2 separate regions of the Homo sapiens genome follow, and region 1 is linked to region 2. Evidence: fine-mapped expression QTL. Tissue or cell type: whole blood. Region 2 holds a variant in brackets; the other region holds the start of a gene. All regions are shown on one strand. Distances are from middle to middle.

Region 1 (8,107 bases), 150 kb before region 2:
AAGCTTAAATTAAATCTCAATATATTGTTATGCTAAGAGAGTCTATATAACTGAGAACACAGAATAACCACTTCTTTATAATAAAGGAATCCTTTTATATAAGCATTTATCCTGACTTCCCCAACAAATTATTTATACCATATAAATACTTTGACCCTTTTTTTCCCCAACCCTGTCATTACTTGGTCTCACACCAGCCTGTGTTAAAATTAAACTTGCCTATTTCTGCTTTCTTGCAGAGTCCTAAGACTTCCTGTAAGTCTCGCTGCCCGTTTTGGCTTTTTCTCTACTCTTAGCATTCAAGGTGACCCAGCAATCCCTGGAAGATGGCCCTGGGCCACATGGCACTCCGAGTGAATAAATGCAAGGAAGCAAGTGCTTAGGTACACATCCTGAATACAGCTCTGATTCTTGGCTAGCTACAGCCACACTTCACTGGGCTTTTTCAGAAGGGAATGGGGTGGAGGCAGGCAAAGAAGGACGGACCCAGAACTTGTTCCAAGGCCAGCTGGAATAGAGTCAATAGTAAGAGTCCAGGCACCAATATTTAAATAGATAGCCCTGACCTATGCATATGGGAAGCAGTTTGATAAATCAACACAATATAGTACACTTCCAAAATTCAGATGCTTGCCGATTTCTCTAGGTCTGAAGAACATTTCTGGCTTTTCCATTTAAAAATGGCATGAGCATGGGTCAGAGATTCAAATCCACATTCTGTTAAGATTCTGCTCAAGCTGAACTTTCAGCTTCAGTTTCTTCATCTGTAAAAAGAGGCAGTTGGACTAGATGATCTCTAGTTCAGAAAATATGATTTTAAGAGATGGAACATGACAAGTCTGAGAAAAGTCAAGAACAAACCTAGTAAGGGTCAGAACAGAACAGACCGCGGGCCTGGAGCATTTCTGGAAGACAGTGGTGGTCAGAGAGAGAGACCCCATAAAGAAGAAAATGAGGGTTGGCAGAAATCCAAAATGACTTCATGAGACTATCTCTTATAGATCTCCTTCTTCTAGGTTCTTCCCTGTGATCATATATAGATCCATCTCTTCCCAGAAGAGCTAAGAGTGATGATTCATAGGCTGGATATACCCACAGTCATCATCACATACCTTCCACCTCTGGGAATGACTCAATCTTAACTACCTAAGAGAAATTAAAGAGTCCAAGGTGCTCAGACCCTGACCTCAGTCACTCGGCGGACCAACTTGGCTGACCATTGAGTAATCTTTTGGAGTCCGAAACTTCTTTAATATACAGCCTGAAAACCTGGATGAAGTTTATGGTATCTACTTCAATTTTATAGTCTCCAAAGCTTTAGGAACACCCGACATGTTTTGGGGCTCTCTGACACAATATTATTCTGCAAAAGTCATAACTGGAGTTTAAAATGTGACTGAATAGTTAAAGGCACTATAGAAAATTTGAACTACAAACATTTATGATAGGTCTTCTATGATCGTGCTTTTATCTGACCGTCCCATGCATCTGATATTTTACTTCTCCTTCCTCAAAGTCCTCTGTTCATTAAACTCACTTTTGTTATAAGTCTAATTAAGACCTATTAAAGTTAAGTTGCTTTGAACATGGGTTTCATAAATATGACTGAGTTTAAAATATCATTACCCAAAAACAACCACCTTTGGCTTTACTCTCAGGCAATCTTAGAATCACAGAATGTTTAAGACACCTTGTAAGGTACCTGACACACAGTAGGTACACAATTACTGCTTTTTAAATGATCATTAACAGCTACCATTTAGTCAGCAAGTACCCATGCCAGACAGGCATTAAGCACTTTGCATATTATCTCTTAATCCTCATAATAACCCCAGTAAGCAGTAATATCTCCATTTTACAGATAAAGAAATTAAAGCTCAAAGTAAATTAACAGCTGCTAATAAAAGGCCGAGAAGGAATCTCAGCTTAGGTCTCTCTCCCACCAGGTCCCTGAAAGACCCCCACTGAGTTTTTCCATAGAGTTTAGGAAGCTGGTCCAGAAGTTTTCTCAGTCTTACTGGCTCTGCCATTTACACCCACATTCTTTACTGTCAAAGGTTGACAACTGACCTGTGCTATGGCCTGTGTGTGCTGGTTCTCCTGGGAAGACCAATGCTATTCCTGAAGCTGGAATAAAGCTTTACAAAAGCATGGAGGTGGGCAGCACGTGACATAAACCACAGCCTCTTTAAAGTGTGGTCACTGCCTTTGGACTCTAGGAAACATACAGTCTCCTTATACGGGGCCTCTCCCCTCTGTCAGCTGCTAAGAAGAGCTTTCCTAGAAGGCATCAGACCCCATTGCAGGCTTATCCTTACCTCGGGAGGAGTTGCCTCAGCTCTAATACCAGAGAAGCCCAGCAGCAGTAACAAGTTTTAGCAAGCATGCTGCTAACCTTCACGACACAGATTCCTGGCAAAGTCACGTTTCGCAAATCTCCACTGCCAGGATATTTCTTGTCCCAGTACTTTCCCTTCACACTTTTTGCTTGAACAAGTATTTCAAGGAAGCCACCGGTTTCAGTGGGGCTCTGGTGCAGAGAGAGAATGCCCAGGAGAATGAATTCCCTCTGCTGGCCCACAATCATTTCTGCACTAACAAGCTCAAATTCTACACACCAAGTATTCCGAGACAATAAACGTCATCTATTAACTGAGTTAACAGGAACCTTTCATTTCAGATTTACAGCTTAACAACAATTATTTCTGAGAGAAAGCAGAGTATAAGCAGCTGGCCAGGCATATAGCCTCAGACCACCCTCCTAGAGCCTCCCCACCCCCAGCTAATTTCTGTGCTTCACCTAGCAGGTGTTATCAGAAAAAAAAAAAAACTGACTAAAATTCAGGGGCTGCAACATTCACGAATTCCAAAGTTGTTAACCGCTGAAATCAAGAGGTTTCCTCCAGTTCTAAAATCCCATTCGCCTCTCCTAAACACAAAATCTCTTCACTGTGGCTGCACTTTGCTTTCTCCGGTCTGTTGGTCCTGGAAGGTCCTTAGTTCAACTCAAGGCCTGGGTGGGGAGGGGAGACCTTTTGTTGCTACAGCCTATTTTTCAGTAGCACAGATGAAGAATGCAACCCCATAGCGATTAAGGCGACTAAGCGCCAAAATACCCTCTCCGGCTTAAATAGCCGATCATGTGGGAACCAAACACTGTTTAAGAAATAAAAGGAGAGGCCAGTAGTGCCGGTCTCCTCTTTCTCCTGGGAGGTTTACCGCTACGGTGGGGGGTTGTCCCTTACAAACCTTGTTTGCAAAGTCCAGGCTCAGATCGGACATTTTGCTTTAACCCCTTGGCTGTGCCCGCCCAACGCAGGAGCCGAGCGGGTCTCGGGTGCGGCCGAGTACTTTGGGGGCTGGGCACATCACTCAGACTTGTTTTCTCAGCTGATCTAGTCCAGCGAACAGGTGTTTGGTTAATTCCCGCCCCCACCCCCATCTTTTTTTTTTTTTTTTTCAAAGGCATGTAAAAGTATCTCCTAAGGAGCGCCCCCGCCTTGCTGAGAAAGTCATGCAGGACACATGGAAAGTGGCTTTCCAACTTGTGCGGGGCGCGCCAGTCTGCGGGGGAGACGGGGTGCACCGTGAGTTTGGGAAAGGCCTAGACCATCCTGGAACTACGCTCCCTGCAAACCCACAGCAGCGCTGCGGTGACCCTGAACGCCACCCCAGCCCCAAACACACACGTGAAGCTCAGCAAAGCGTGCCACCTGCCGGGGTCCCAGCAAACACGCCCGGAGGGAAGAACCGGCGGAAAGCACTTTGTTTAAAACAGAAAAAAAAGTAAACTCTCCCGGGGCCCAGCCTAGCCCTCGGGTTCTCCTCCTTCCCGAGCTGAATGGAGGGAGGCGCCGCGCGGGGCGGGTCAGGGCGGGGAGCCGAGCGCGCTGGGCGCTGGGTGCGCCTCGGCCGGCCCGGGCGCGACCCACGGGCCAACTACTCCCCGGGGCCGGCGGGAACAGGGCGCGCCCTCGCCTCAACTCGCGCGCAGGCCGGCGCCCCAGTGGGGGTGGGAAGGGTCTGGGAACTCACAGCCGCTTGTCCTCGGGCTGCAGTTGCCAGTGCATGGCCAGCGAGAAGCCGAAGAGGCTCCCGGGGTCTCCATATTTCCGGATCACGTTGTCCTCCCGAGTGTCCAAGTTGAAGGCTGCGCCGAGCCGGGACAGGAGCCCCGCCGACAGGTAGAGCAAGCACAGCTGCCCGGCGGCGGCCATGGGCGGACGCACGGGGAGGGGAGCGGGGACCTGCAGCGGCCGCCCTGCGCTCCGGGCTGGGTCCGAGGCTGCCGCGCTGCTGCTACCGCAGCCACCTTCGCCTCCTCTCGCCGCTGCGCCCGGCCCCACCCCCGGGACGGGTCGCGCTCTCCGTCCGGCCGCTCCCCCTCGCGGGCAGCTCGCGACCGCTGAATGAGCCCGTTGTTCTCTGGAGACTCGCAGGCGTTTTATCAAGTGACGAGGACGCCGGCCCCGCCCCTCCCCACCCTCTCGCCCCTCCTTGCGCGCCCGCGGCCCGGCGCACCGCCCGCACCTTACCCGCCGGCTCTGGCGTCTCCAGCTGCCCGGTACCTGCCCGGAAGCCACGACGTGGGAGCCCCGGAGGCGAGCTCGCGGCGAAGCAGCCCCACTGCGCCGCCCTCTGTGGACAGAATTGTGGTTGCCGAGTAGCACAGAGCGAGGGAGACTTTACTACCCGTTATAAAGAGAAGTGCAGGTGATGCACCGGGCCTCATGGCCTGAGCAGCCTGTTCTTGCAGATGTGGGCCCACGTGCAGATGCATACGTCATTCATTCATTTCTACAGGTGTTTATGGAGCGCTTAAGGCGTGCCCAACACTTGGGGACTACAGCTGTGTAGACTGTTCTGGGTCCTCAAACACCTAACAACCCTCAAAAATGATCACAGCGCACACCTTGATAGTGCTGTATAATGTACACAACCCAGCCATTACCTCAATTCATCCTAACAGTCCTATGAGGTAGGTGTTTCTTTTTGCAGATCAGAAAACCGAAGTTCCGCCTTGTCCCCAGATCACCTAGGATTTTGCCCAGGTGACCAGGAGAGCTTGTGGAAGAAGTCACGCAAGTCAAGGATGGGTTGTTTAAAGTGGCGCCAGGAGCTCAGGCGACGATGCCGTTCTTTCCTAGCCCCGGACTTTCAGAACTAGTTGTGGGGAGAACTGCTGGGCCAAGAGACAGCTCCGAGTTCTGTGTAGGTGGCATGAAGGCTCCTGCCTCCAGGACATGAGGCGGGGCTCCAGTGAGGTGTTGGCCCTAGGGGCAACCTTATCCTGCAGGGGTTCTTAACCCGAGGAGAGGTAATTAATTCAAGAGTACTGTGAACTTGGATGAGAAAAAATTTACGTCTTAATTTTCACCAACCTCTGACATTTAGCACGTTTTGCCATTATGAACGTAGACAACAAACTACAGTAGCAGTAGGATAAGTATTTATGACTTAGTAATCACTAGAAACCATAGGTTTTTACATCACATCACAGTTGTTGCAAGTATCTCAAATAACAGTAGTTATTAGACAATCAGCCAGATATTATATGTCAATAATGAAGCATATATATTGCTCTAGCACAAATTTTTAAAAACATTTTGTTAGCTACATTTCAATATTATTGGCTTTTTTTGTAACCTCTTGTGGTTTCTTTTATGTATTTAAAACCCTTATTCTGAGAAGAACCCCATGGTTTTCAGCAGCCTGCCAAAGGGGTCCCATGGCATGAAAAGGTTGGGACGTGCTGGCCTGAAGCCTTCTGGAATGCCTTGGGGAGCCCTCTTTGGAATCTGACATCCCTGCATTGGAAATACAAGCAGGGTGCAGCCCCAGGAAAGAGCAGGAGCTGTGTGTGCATAGGGGTAGGGGTGGCCTCTTCTTCACCTCAAGGAGTATTCAAGAGAACAGCATGTGCCACTCAGAAAAGCTGCGTGAACATCATCAAGGGTCCCCACAGGTGGTAGCAGCTGTCAGAGTAAGTCCGTCAGTATATTAGGGGTGTGTACCACTTCCTTTCCAATCAGTAACTCCAGTCAATTATAGTCCAAAGTGGGGTGCAGTGGTTTAAATTCAGTAGATGATTTTGGAGAGCACACAGTTTTAACAAATATATCTTGATAAGGTTGAGAAACTATTGGAGACAATCTAGTAAACTAAGAAGTACTTGCAACGTGATTTTTCATGCAAATAAGTTGCAAGTTAGCCTTTTCCCTTCGTGTAAAATATGTACTATTCCAGAGAGATGGGGTCCAGACTATTATAGGCATAGTATAATGAACCTCACTGCAGAGTGTACTCAGCCAGGAGCTGGTGATTTGGCTGTAATGGTTACTGAAATATTCTGAATTGGTTGATAAAAGCTGCTGCCCTTAGTTCCTCACAGGCAACCATCCCTGCCCTGCCCATTTTCCTAGGACTAAGCAACTTCCTCACAACCTGGCAAATGAAAGTTTAAGCCCTTAAGCCCTGATGCAGCAAGGGCTCCCTCTGCTTGGATATCCCCATGTCACACCAGCTGTTAACTATTCTGAATATCACCCCTTGCTTCTAAGAGTAATTCTGTGGACCATTGATTCCTGTCTTCCCAAGATGTGTTTAGTGGATGATGTATGAATGGCCAGAGTTATTTACTTTATCCCAAACACAGATTGTGCTCAAATTGAAATTCTAAATAATATTAAATTTAAATATCACAACTACATGTATAGCACTACTGAAGCAAATTATGCTTGTGTGGGAAGAGGTTCAGATAAAGAAAAACAAGGCTGGGAGTCTTGTTCTGGAATATGTCAAGTGCCCATCGCAAATGGAAAACTTATTAGCTCAGTGCTCCTACCTGCCACCTGTCTCCTACCTACTTGAAGTTGAGTCAAACTCTCACTCTCAACATAGATGCCGAAGATACTTGAAGTTGAGTCAAACCCTCACTCTTGACATAATTTATTTGAAGATTGTCAGCTCCTTCTGACTATAACCATCAAGTTTTGGCCAGGCACAGTGGCTCACGCCTATAATCCTGGCACTTTGGGAGGCGAGGTGGGAGGATCACCTGAGGTCAAGGGTTCGAGACCAGCCTGGCCAAAATGGTGAGACTCCCCCCCACCCAACCCCACCACCCCGTCTCTACTAAAAATACAAAAATTAGCTGGGTCTAATGATGGGCACCTCTAATCCCAGCTACTCGGGAGGCCAAGGCTCAAGACTCACTTGAAATGGGGAGACAGAGGTTGCAGTAAGCCAAGATTGCACCACTGCACTCCAGACTAGGTGACAGAGCAAGACTCTGACTCAAAAAAAAAAAAGAATCAAGTTTTGTGACTCAGTTGTTATTTCCATTGTAAAACAGAGTTGGGTGTTTTACAAAAGTGTCTTACAAAAAGGAGGTTTAGAGGTCATTCTGGATCCACTGAGGACACATCAATCTCTGGGGCCAAAGGAATAAAAGAATTCAGAGCCCTAAAAATTAAAGACCTGGGGAGGGAGTACACAGTTTTAATGGGGAAAACAAAATCTGGGACAGGAAGATACTTGTCTGGAACCAAAGGGAGAGAGATAGCTTGGTGATAAAGGTGTGCTGAGTATATAGGGCATGGGGCATGTGTGTGTGTGTGCTAGCACACATGCCTATGAAAACAAGACATGCACAGTGCAAGAAGGGCCCTACAAATCCAGTTAACTGGCAGAACCGTGTCTAAAAAAAAAAAAAAAGGGCCGATTAGAAAACGAAATAACACATCACAGAAGAAACTTCTATAAACTGAACATTTTTAATTAAAAGGCAGTGAAAGCTATGCATAGAGGCATTTGCTCAGGTGAGAGCTTTTGAATTCTTATGTTTTACCAGTACACTTTTCAAAATAAAATTATTTATTTGTACTATATCCCACCCTCTGTAGAAGAGCTTTCAAGATAATTTTAGAATATTGGTCATTTATGGAGAAGTCTGAAGAATCCATGTCATACCTAATATATTTTCCATTCCCTGAGACCTACTTTAATCATTTTGTTATCATGTTCACTGTTATATTGACTTCATCATCACTAACAGCAGAGAATATATTTGCTTTTTTCATGCAACATAAAAACTAGTTATTAGGCC
Region 2 (8,107 bases):
TACACATCTGTAAAACAGGAATAATAATACCTGCTGCACAATATGGCTATGGTTTTGTAAATGATACAGCACTATTATCCATAATAGTAGTAACCTTAAGGAGATGCTGAAGACTCTTTTCAGATTTGTCCCAGTGCTTACATCTACTACATTTAAGGGGAGTAGGTTTGAAGATAAATTTCATTATCCTTGTCATCACTGATACCTTCATGAGTCAAGCACCAGAAGTAGACTCGGCACCAGATGAAACATGGTCATCAAAATTATCCCTGAAAGGCCAGTTGGTCAAGATATTTCAGACATCAAAAATATGCCCCCCGGCCCCACCCCCGAGGCCTCAGCTGCATCACATTCCTTCACTTGGACCCGCCTGCAGACCACACAGTATCTCAGGGCAATTTCACACTCTCTCTACCGACTGCCTCTTGCTATCTGGATTGCACACTCAGGCAGCCTGATTCCTGTCTGGTCAACCACATAGAAACCAAGGGAATGAGAGCTAATGTAATTGGTTGAAGTCATTTCCAGAAATATGCTATTGGGGACATATCGAGAAGGTATCTGGGTTCTAAACAGGAAATCATAATAATCAGACTAATGCAGCATCCAAATTACTTCAGGGAAAACAATTGTTACAAAATCAAACTACAGACATACCAAGCTCCTCATCAGAAATAGAAAGAAGCTTCCTTTTTCATTACACCTCTTTTTTCCAGCAAATTTCTTGCTCATTCTAGAATGAATCTTGACTATTCACAATCCCTATCATTGTTCCTGAAATAACACCCTCATTAATTATGCCTACTCTGAAATACAGTTTAACCTGTTTTATAGTTAACAGCAGCCTTAACATACAGTCCCAAGTGAACCGTGTAGAGAGCCTCAGAATTACAAACGTAAAGTGACGGCAAAGGAAGAAAATATATATGCCTTCTAACTGACTCAGAAATGGGCTTCCCACACCCCCTGCAGTCATGTGCCACACAGTGACATCAGGCAACAACAGACTGCATGTATGATGGTGATGCCATAGGATTAGAATAGAGCTGGAAAATTCCTATCCCCTGATGACATATTGATGATCCTGACCCCGATGATTAAGCCCGGGCTAATGTGTGTGTAGTTGTCTTAGTTTTTAACAAAAAAGTTTAAAAGTAAAAATAATAATAATAAAATTTAATGAAAAAAATGTATAGAATAAGGATATAAAGAAAATATTTTTGCATAGCTGTATAATGCCTTTGTGTTTAAAGCTAAGTGTTATTCCAAAAGAAGTTAAAAACATTAAAAAGCTTATAAAGTGAAAAAGTTACAGTAAGCTAAGGTTAATTTATTATTGAAGAAAGAAGAGTTTTAAAATAAATTTAAGCCAGGCACAGTGGCTCACGCCTCTAATCCCAGCACTTTGGGAGGCCAAGGCAGGCGGATCACTTGAGGTCAAGAGTTTGAGACCAGCCTGGCCAACATGGTGAAAGCTCATTTCTACTAAAAATACAAAAATTAGCCAGGCATGGTGGTGGGCAACTGTAAGCCCAGCTACTAGGGAGGCTGAGGCAGGAGAATCACTTGAACCCAGGAGGCAGAGGTTGCAGTGAGCGAAGATCATGCCACTGCACTCCAGCCTGAATGACAGAGTGAGACTGTCTCAAAAAAAGTAAAATGAATTTAGTGTAGCCTGAGTGTGCTGTGTTTATAAAGTCTACAGTAATGTACAGTAATGTCCCAGGCCCTCACAATCACTCACCACTTACTCACTGACTCACCCAGAGCAACTTCCAGTCCTGTAAGCTCCACTTATGGTAAGTGTCCTTACAAGTATATCATTTTTTATCTTTTATACCATAACCTTCTCTATGTTTAGATACACAAATACTGATCATTGTGTTACAACTGCCTATGGTATATTCAGTACAGTAACATGCTGTACAGTTTTATAGCCTAGGAGCAATAGGCTATACCACACAGCCCAGGTGTATAGTAGGCAGTACCATCTAGAGCTATGCAAGTACACTCTATGATGTTTGCACAAAGAAATCGCCTGACAATGCACTTCATAGAACATATCTACATTGTTAAGTGACACACAGTTGCATTTCAGCACTCCATGCCCTACTTCTTTATATATATATTAATAGCTTCGAGGGAATGGGTAGTCATTTAGCATTAATAAGCAATGAAAAGTGGAATCTTTTTCTTGTTTCAGAAAGTGACAGTAAGCAGTCTAGAAAATGTGGACAAGATGGAGGAAAGGAAAGAGTGAAGGGAAGAAGGGAGAGTAGAAAGGAAAACCAAGATAACTTTCCTCATGTCCTGAATCTGATGAGCTCAGACTGTCTGGCACATGCCCTTCAGGTAGGTGATAGGGCAGTGTTGGGCTGATTCTGGGAAAACTCTCCTCTACAGAACTCAGGTGTCTTTAATACAGTGTAGTCCATTTTGTTCTTTTTTCTTCTGTTTCTTAGCGATGGGTTTGCCTTTTTAGGGGTTGGCTGGAAACGAGTACATTATCATCGACCACTGACAAAGCAACAGGAGGACATCTTCTGTCCCTGGGCACACGCTGGTTACCCATCAATCACTTTTTATTGACCTTGAACTAAGATCCATAAATTCAAAAACTGCAATTTAAAAATTTTATAGGCAAACTAATGGAATATCAACTTCTACAAGGCTGATTCTTCAATAACACACTTGAAGGACATAGTCCCCTGCCAGGGATGGAGCTCTGTTTGCTGATTTTTCACTAAGGGAAGGGAGGAAGGAACACTTAGTGAGCCTCCAGTGTGTGCCAGGCACCATATGGGGTGCTTTACATATATGATACCAAATCTAAGTTGCCACCAACTGTAACACGCCCAGCAGGAAAGCAAACCTACTGCCGATTAATTGAAAGATGCCATCCAGGGTGTATTTACTGGGAAGCTAAGAGAGTTTCAGCCTCAGGGCCCTTCATTTGCATGGGCCCTTCCAATGTTCTTGGAGAGGGGCCAGCAGTGTGTTCACGTGGCCATATATTTTTGTAAAATTTGCAAAAGATATTTTAACTGCAATCA[A/G]TTAGACCACTGTCTCTTTCCACTCTGACTTCCCCTCTGTCACACTTCCCCTTATGTGGGTGGCACTGGAGTGGCTATGGGCAACTTGGGGATCCTATTAAAGGGGAAGTTGAGCTGGGGATACATTTAGTCTGGGTTCAGTGGGACGTTTGTATGTGGTCTGTGCAGTTAACTTACTGCTGGGCATGCTGGGATAGAAATGGCTTCACCGCTTCTCCCCTCCACCACACTAGCTCTCCTGGCAGTAAGAAGCTCCAGTGCAGGGCTCCAGGCTGTATCCAATATAAATACATCCCACCACACTCGCCAGCAGCATATGGCCTGGGCAGCAGAAAATAAACAAGGTGTGAAGTGTGTGAGCCAGAATTTGGTCTGTGGAAAATTTTCCCAAATCTCATAGTTCATATAGGAAAGAAACTTCATAGAGGTTTTCCCCAAATTTGACAAAAAAAACTCTCAAGATTTATATGACATTACCAAAAACAGTTGTGAAGCTGGAAAACACACATTTTACTGTTGATAGTAAAAAATAAATTTTCGTCAACCATTGAGAAGGAAGACTGAACTGTCTATTCTCTCTATAGAAAACAGACATAACGAATTCATTGTCATACAGCCCACTCCCCTCCAAAAATGCAGGGCAAAGAAGTATAACAGAAGTGGGCCAGGCAGTTAATTTTTACAAATATTATGGTATTTTATGTTGTTTGTGATTTATATCACCTTTTTAAAATTTGTGGTTTGTTGTGATTTTCCCATTTAAACAAATATTCATGTTCTTACCTAATTTTGCACGTATTATTTTCTCTTTTTTATAAAGGTCCCTGAATAATATAGAGTTCAGGCCCCATAAAACTGGGGTTGTCTAGACCCCTGGATGCCATCCCAATATCAGAGACCTTTCTAATGTATGGGTGGAAATAAGAACCTTAGACCTGATTAAATACATAGCAGGTATTATTTCCTTAATTCCACATAACAACACTGGGAGGCAGGTGTGTCATTTTACAGATGAGGAAACTGGGCTCAGGAAGTTGGAAATTTTCCCAAAATTACTGCCATGGCTACATTGGCAATATTCAAAACTTAAAGCCACAAAGTGAGGCCTGAACTTTTTGAGGAGCCCTAAAGTTCCTCTATCTCCACTGAATTAGTAGAATGCAGAATCAGGATTAGAACCAGACTTTTTATCTGAAACCTTGAAGCCTTACCACAACACCTCTTTGGAAAAGAACTTCCACTACCTCCTTACAGAAATTTATATTTCCTGTTAATCCTCCAAAAAGGTATTTCATTTTCATCCTTATGTGTAATTTTGCAATTAAATGACTATCTTCTGTTCAGGAGTTTTAGGGATTTTAGAAAGGACCCATCCCCAAACTCTGCTCCCAATTGCTGTCCCCCGTGCCCAGACCAATCAGAGAGGACTTTGCCATTAGACACCCTTTGAGTTAAAACATAAAAGCTCCTTCCTCTCAAAATGTATATGTATACTTAGAAGTAGAAACTCAATGAGGAAGCTATTCTTCATCATTAAGAACTTAACAAGAATGTATATTTCAAAAGCACTAACACCGCAGGATTCCTGGGGGGAAGGCGTTGTAGTGGTGCTGGCAGGGTCTGTTTTGTTATGGAGGTGGGGCAGACACAGACGGTCCCAGGCAACCAGAAGGCAGCAGTGCTGTAGCCATTTCCACCTCCATTCTACCTAGCACACTATAGTTATTAAAAACTAATCAGGCCAGTGCAGTGGCTCAGGCCTATAATCCCAGCACTTTGGGAGGCCGAGGTGGGTAGATCGCTTGAGCTTAGGCATTTGAGACCAGCCTGGACAATGTGGCAAATCTTGTCTCTGCAAAAAATACAAAAATTAGCTGGGCTTGGTGGCGCATGCCTGCAGTCCCAGCTAGTCGGGAGGCTGAGGTGGGAGGATCGCTTGAGCCCAGGGGGCCAAAGCTGCAGTGAGCCAAGACTGTACACTGTACTCCAGCATGGATGACAGAACCAGACCCTGTTTCAAAAAAAAAAAAAAAAAAAAAAAAACGCTAATCGGTTAGTTCCTGGTACAAAACTTCTCCTGGCCATTAAGCTGGCACCACTGAATCCAGTATTTCAGGGGACTACATACAAGCAGTCCCAGTGGGGACTTTCCATCCTTGCAGATGTCATCACCGACACCAGCCTGAGCTCCCTGTCTCCCTTTGCCATGATTTATGGGGAGAAAGCTGAGGTTTAAGGCAGAAGTTTAATTGGCGGTCCACGAAACTGCTTGAAATTTGTTGCAGGAGTAAGATGAGACTGCAATTCTTAAGGGAGACAGTCAAATACTAAAGGGATTTATGAGCTCCCCAAAAGTTTAAGAACCACCGTTGTAGAAGAAAAGCACTGAAATAAAATTAGTACAAGTCTCAGAGGGAGGCTGATACCAAAAACATAGTCAAGTGATGTCAGGTGGTGCGTGTGTAGGTATGTGGATAAGAAAAAGTTTGTTACGTTTAAGTGGTGTGCAATGTTTTTAACTTGCTAGATAATCAGTTAAGAAATTCTGGTTTTTATTAAATCATTAAAATAATTAGTTAATATTTTCTCTCTTGACATGCCTATATTATATACATAATACTAGAGGATTCATCAGACTTCCATTTTTAACTTACTAGATCGTTTTATTTTTAATAATACAACTGAATGAGAATCCTATTTTTGGCTCCAAGTCAGACTATAAACAGAAAATATTGAGCTGCAGAGAAATCACCTTACCACAGTTTCATTTTGACCTTCTATTCCACAGCCATTTGTTTAATACATTTTGCTTTGTGTTTAGAAGTGCATTATTTATTATCTGAATTAAGCTGTAATTTGTTTCCATTAATACAAAAAAACGCTCTGCCAACTCAACCAGCTTCTTGTATCAATGAAAATCATGATCTCATTAGGAGTTGCTTTAAGAAAAAATGCAGCTTTTTCTTTTTTTTTTTTTTTTTTTTTTCCTGAGACAGAATTTTGCTCTTGTTGCCCAGGCTGGAGTGCAATGGCGCAGTCTCAGCTCACCGCAACCTCCACCTCCCAGGTTCAAGCAATTCTCTTGCCTCAGCCTCCCAAGTAGCTGGGATTACAGGCATACACCACCACGCCCTACTAATTTTGTATTTTTAGTAGAGACAAGGTTTCTCCATGTTGGTCAGGCTGGTCTCAAACTCTTGACCTCAGGGGATCCGCCCACCTCGGCCTCCCAAAGTGCTGGGATTACAGGCATGAGCCACTGTGCCCGGTCAGCTTTTTCTTAAGAAAGCAGCTTCTCTGCCCGACCTTCATCTTGCTTCCTTAACCCATCTCCCTCTGGATATGCCAAAATGCTTCCATCTCATACTTCTGTCCTGTTGGGTCCTTCCAATCCTTGACCCACCACCCCACAAACCTAATTTGGGCACCTGAGTCAGGGCTTTCCAGTTTGTGTCTTTGAGAGAAAGGATCTGCCCTTAGCTTGAGAGAAACTGTAACCTGGAACAACACGCCCTTTAATAGGGATGTTTGTTCAGCGTTGGTTGCACATTCATCCAAACCCACTGCACAGCTCCCTTGAGCACCACCTCTTGAGAGGGTTTGTTAGACTTATTGCAAATAAATGGACAAAGTTTTCAAGAGGTAGCATTTCTTAATTTCCCAAATGGTTGGGTTTGGGGTTTGGTTATTTGAGGCTTGTTTATTCTTTTTTATTTCTACAAAGATGATTGCCCCTCTCTGCCCCTCTCCAGCCTTCCTGACCACAGCAGACCATGTGATGATGTGAAAGCAGTTAAGCCCAAAATGCTTGACATCATTCCCATATTTGGGGACTTTCCCACCCTAGAGGTTCTTACCTCCCCACAGCTGAAACCAGAAAACTGACTTTCCCTGATTCCCTTGCAGCTAGACCTCACCATGTGACCCAGGCTCTGCCAATCAGATAGTCTAACAAACAGCTTCATTTGGAATTGAGGCCATGAGCAAGCCAACTGTGCAGAATCCATTTGCTAGAAAGGGTGGCAGTAGTGTGTCCAGATCCTAGGGGCAACAATGGCATGAGCTGTGCTGAGGGGGTCTAGACTTGGAGGCAGCTGCAGAGACCCTTTCTGACTCACTCCCAGGGTGTGGTTGGTTTGAGCCTTGTTCTGACCTGCTGGCCTACAAGCCTGACTTTCTGGCCCTCTAGAAATTTTGAAAGTATCTTCATATCCTCTAATAAACTCCTTTTTCTGCTGAAACGACTGCAAATGGGTTTTGGTTTTGGTAACAGATCCTTGATGGATACAATGCCCACGAAGACCTGCATGGTCTCCAGCCAGCCTGCTTCTCCTATTGGACCTGTTAGTGTTCTTCCCCTCTTACTGGGCCCTCGTCTTCTCCCCCAAGGAGTTAAGTTCTCTCCTGCCTCAGCCTTCGCAGGTGCTGTTTCTCAGCTGGGAATGTTCTGCCCCTGCTCCAACCCTGGCTCCCTCCTGAACTCCAAACACAGCTCAAAACTGACTGGGTTAAGTCTTCCCAATACACCCTCCTGGCATCCTAGACTAGCCCTGCTTGGTACTCATCACAGTTGAAATTAAATACTTAGTTGGTTAGTGATTTTCTCTCTGAAGAGACTGTAATAATCAAAATAATAACATTTATTGCACTCTTTCCAAATGCCAGGAAGACTTCTAAGCACTTTACATGGATCACCTCATTCCATCTTCACTAAAACCCTAACGAAAGTATTATTATAAAACCTATTTTACACATGGAGAAACTTAGACCGAGCACTTAAGAAACAAATCCTAGGCCACACAAAAAGTATGGGCTGGAGCCAACATCAGAACCCAGAAAATCTCACACTAGATCACACTCTTAATACCATCTGTCATCTCTACAGTGGGTGCCTGCATCCCAGAACTTGTGTAAAATAAGTTATTGGAAGGTGAGAAGAAAATATTAGAAACTTATATAGATATATACATTTGTAACTCCTCTGGATTAATTTATTTTGCCTGTTCATTTTGTAATGTACACAAATCATTTTACTTGATGTGCATAACATAGCA

The links. PIP is the estimated chance that this variant, and not a neighbour inherited with it, causes the effect.
Region 1: ITGA6 starts here. The variant in region 2 is fine-mapped to the expression of ITGA6 in whole blood (TOPMed, PIP above 0.99). The same link has a PIP of 0.9 or more in macrophages, monocytes, monocytes after LPS, monocytes after Pam3CSK4, monocytes after R848 and monocytes after interferon gamma.

Annotation. Positions count from the first base shown.
Region 1 is chr2:172,423,899-172,432,005 of GRCh38, reverse strand. ITGA6 (integrin subunit alpha 6) reads right to left here and starts at 4,420. Exons shown (of 26, transcript NM_000210.4): 1 at 4,036-4,420. The coding sequence starts at 4,217. RefSeq lists enhancers at 484-1,683, 3,108-3,608 and a silencer at 4,393-4,472.
Region 2 is chr2:172,276,004-172,284,110 of GRCh38, reverse strand. It overlaps LOC107985960 (a long non-coding RNA gene), which reads right to left. Exons shown (of 6, transcript XR_001739773.3): 2 at 3,231-3,374. Among named protein-coding and RNA genes, the nearest start is that of ITGA6, 150 kb to the left of the region's middle. The variant A/G (reference allele first, on the strand shown) is at 3,054.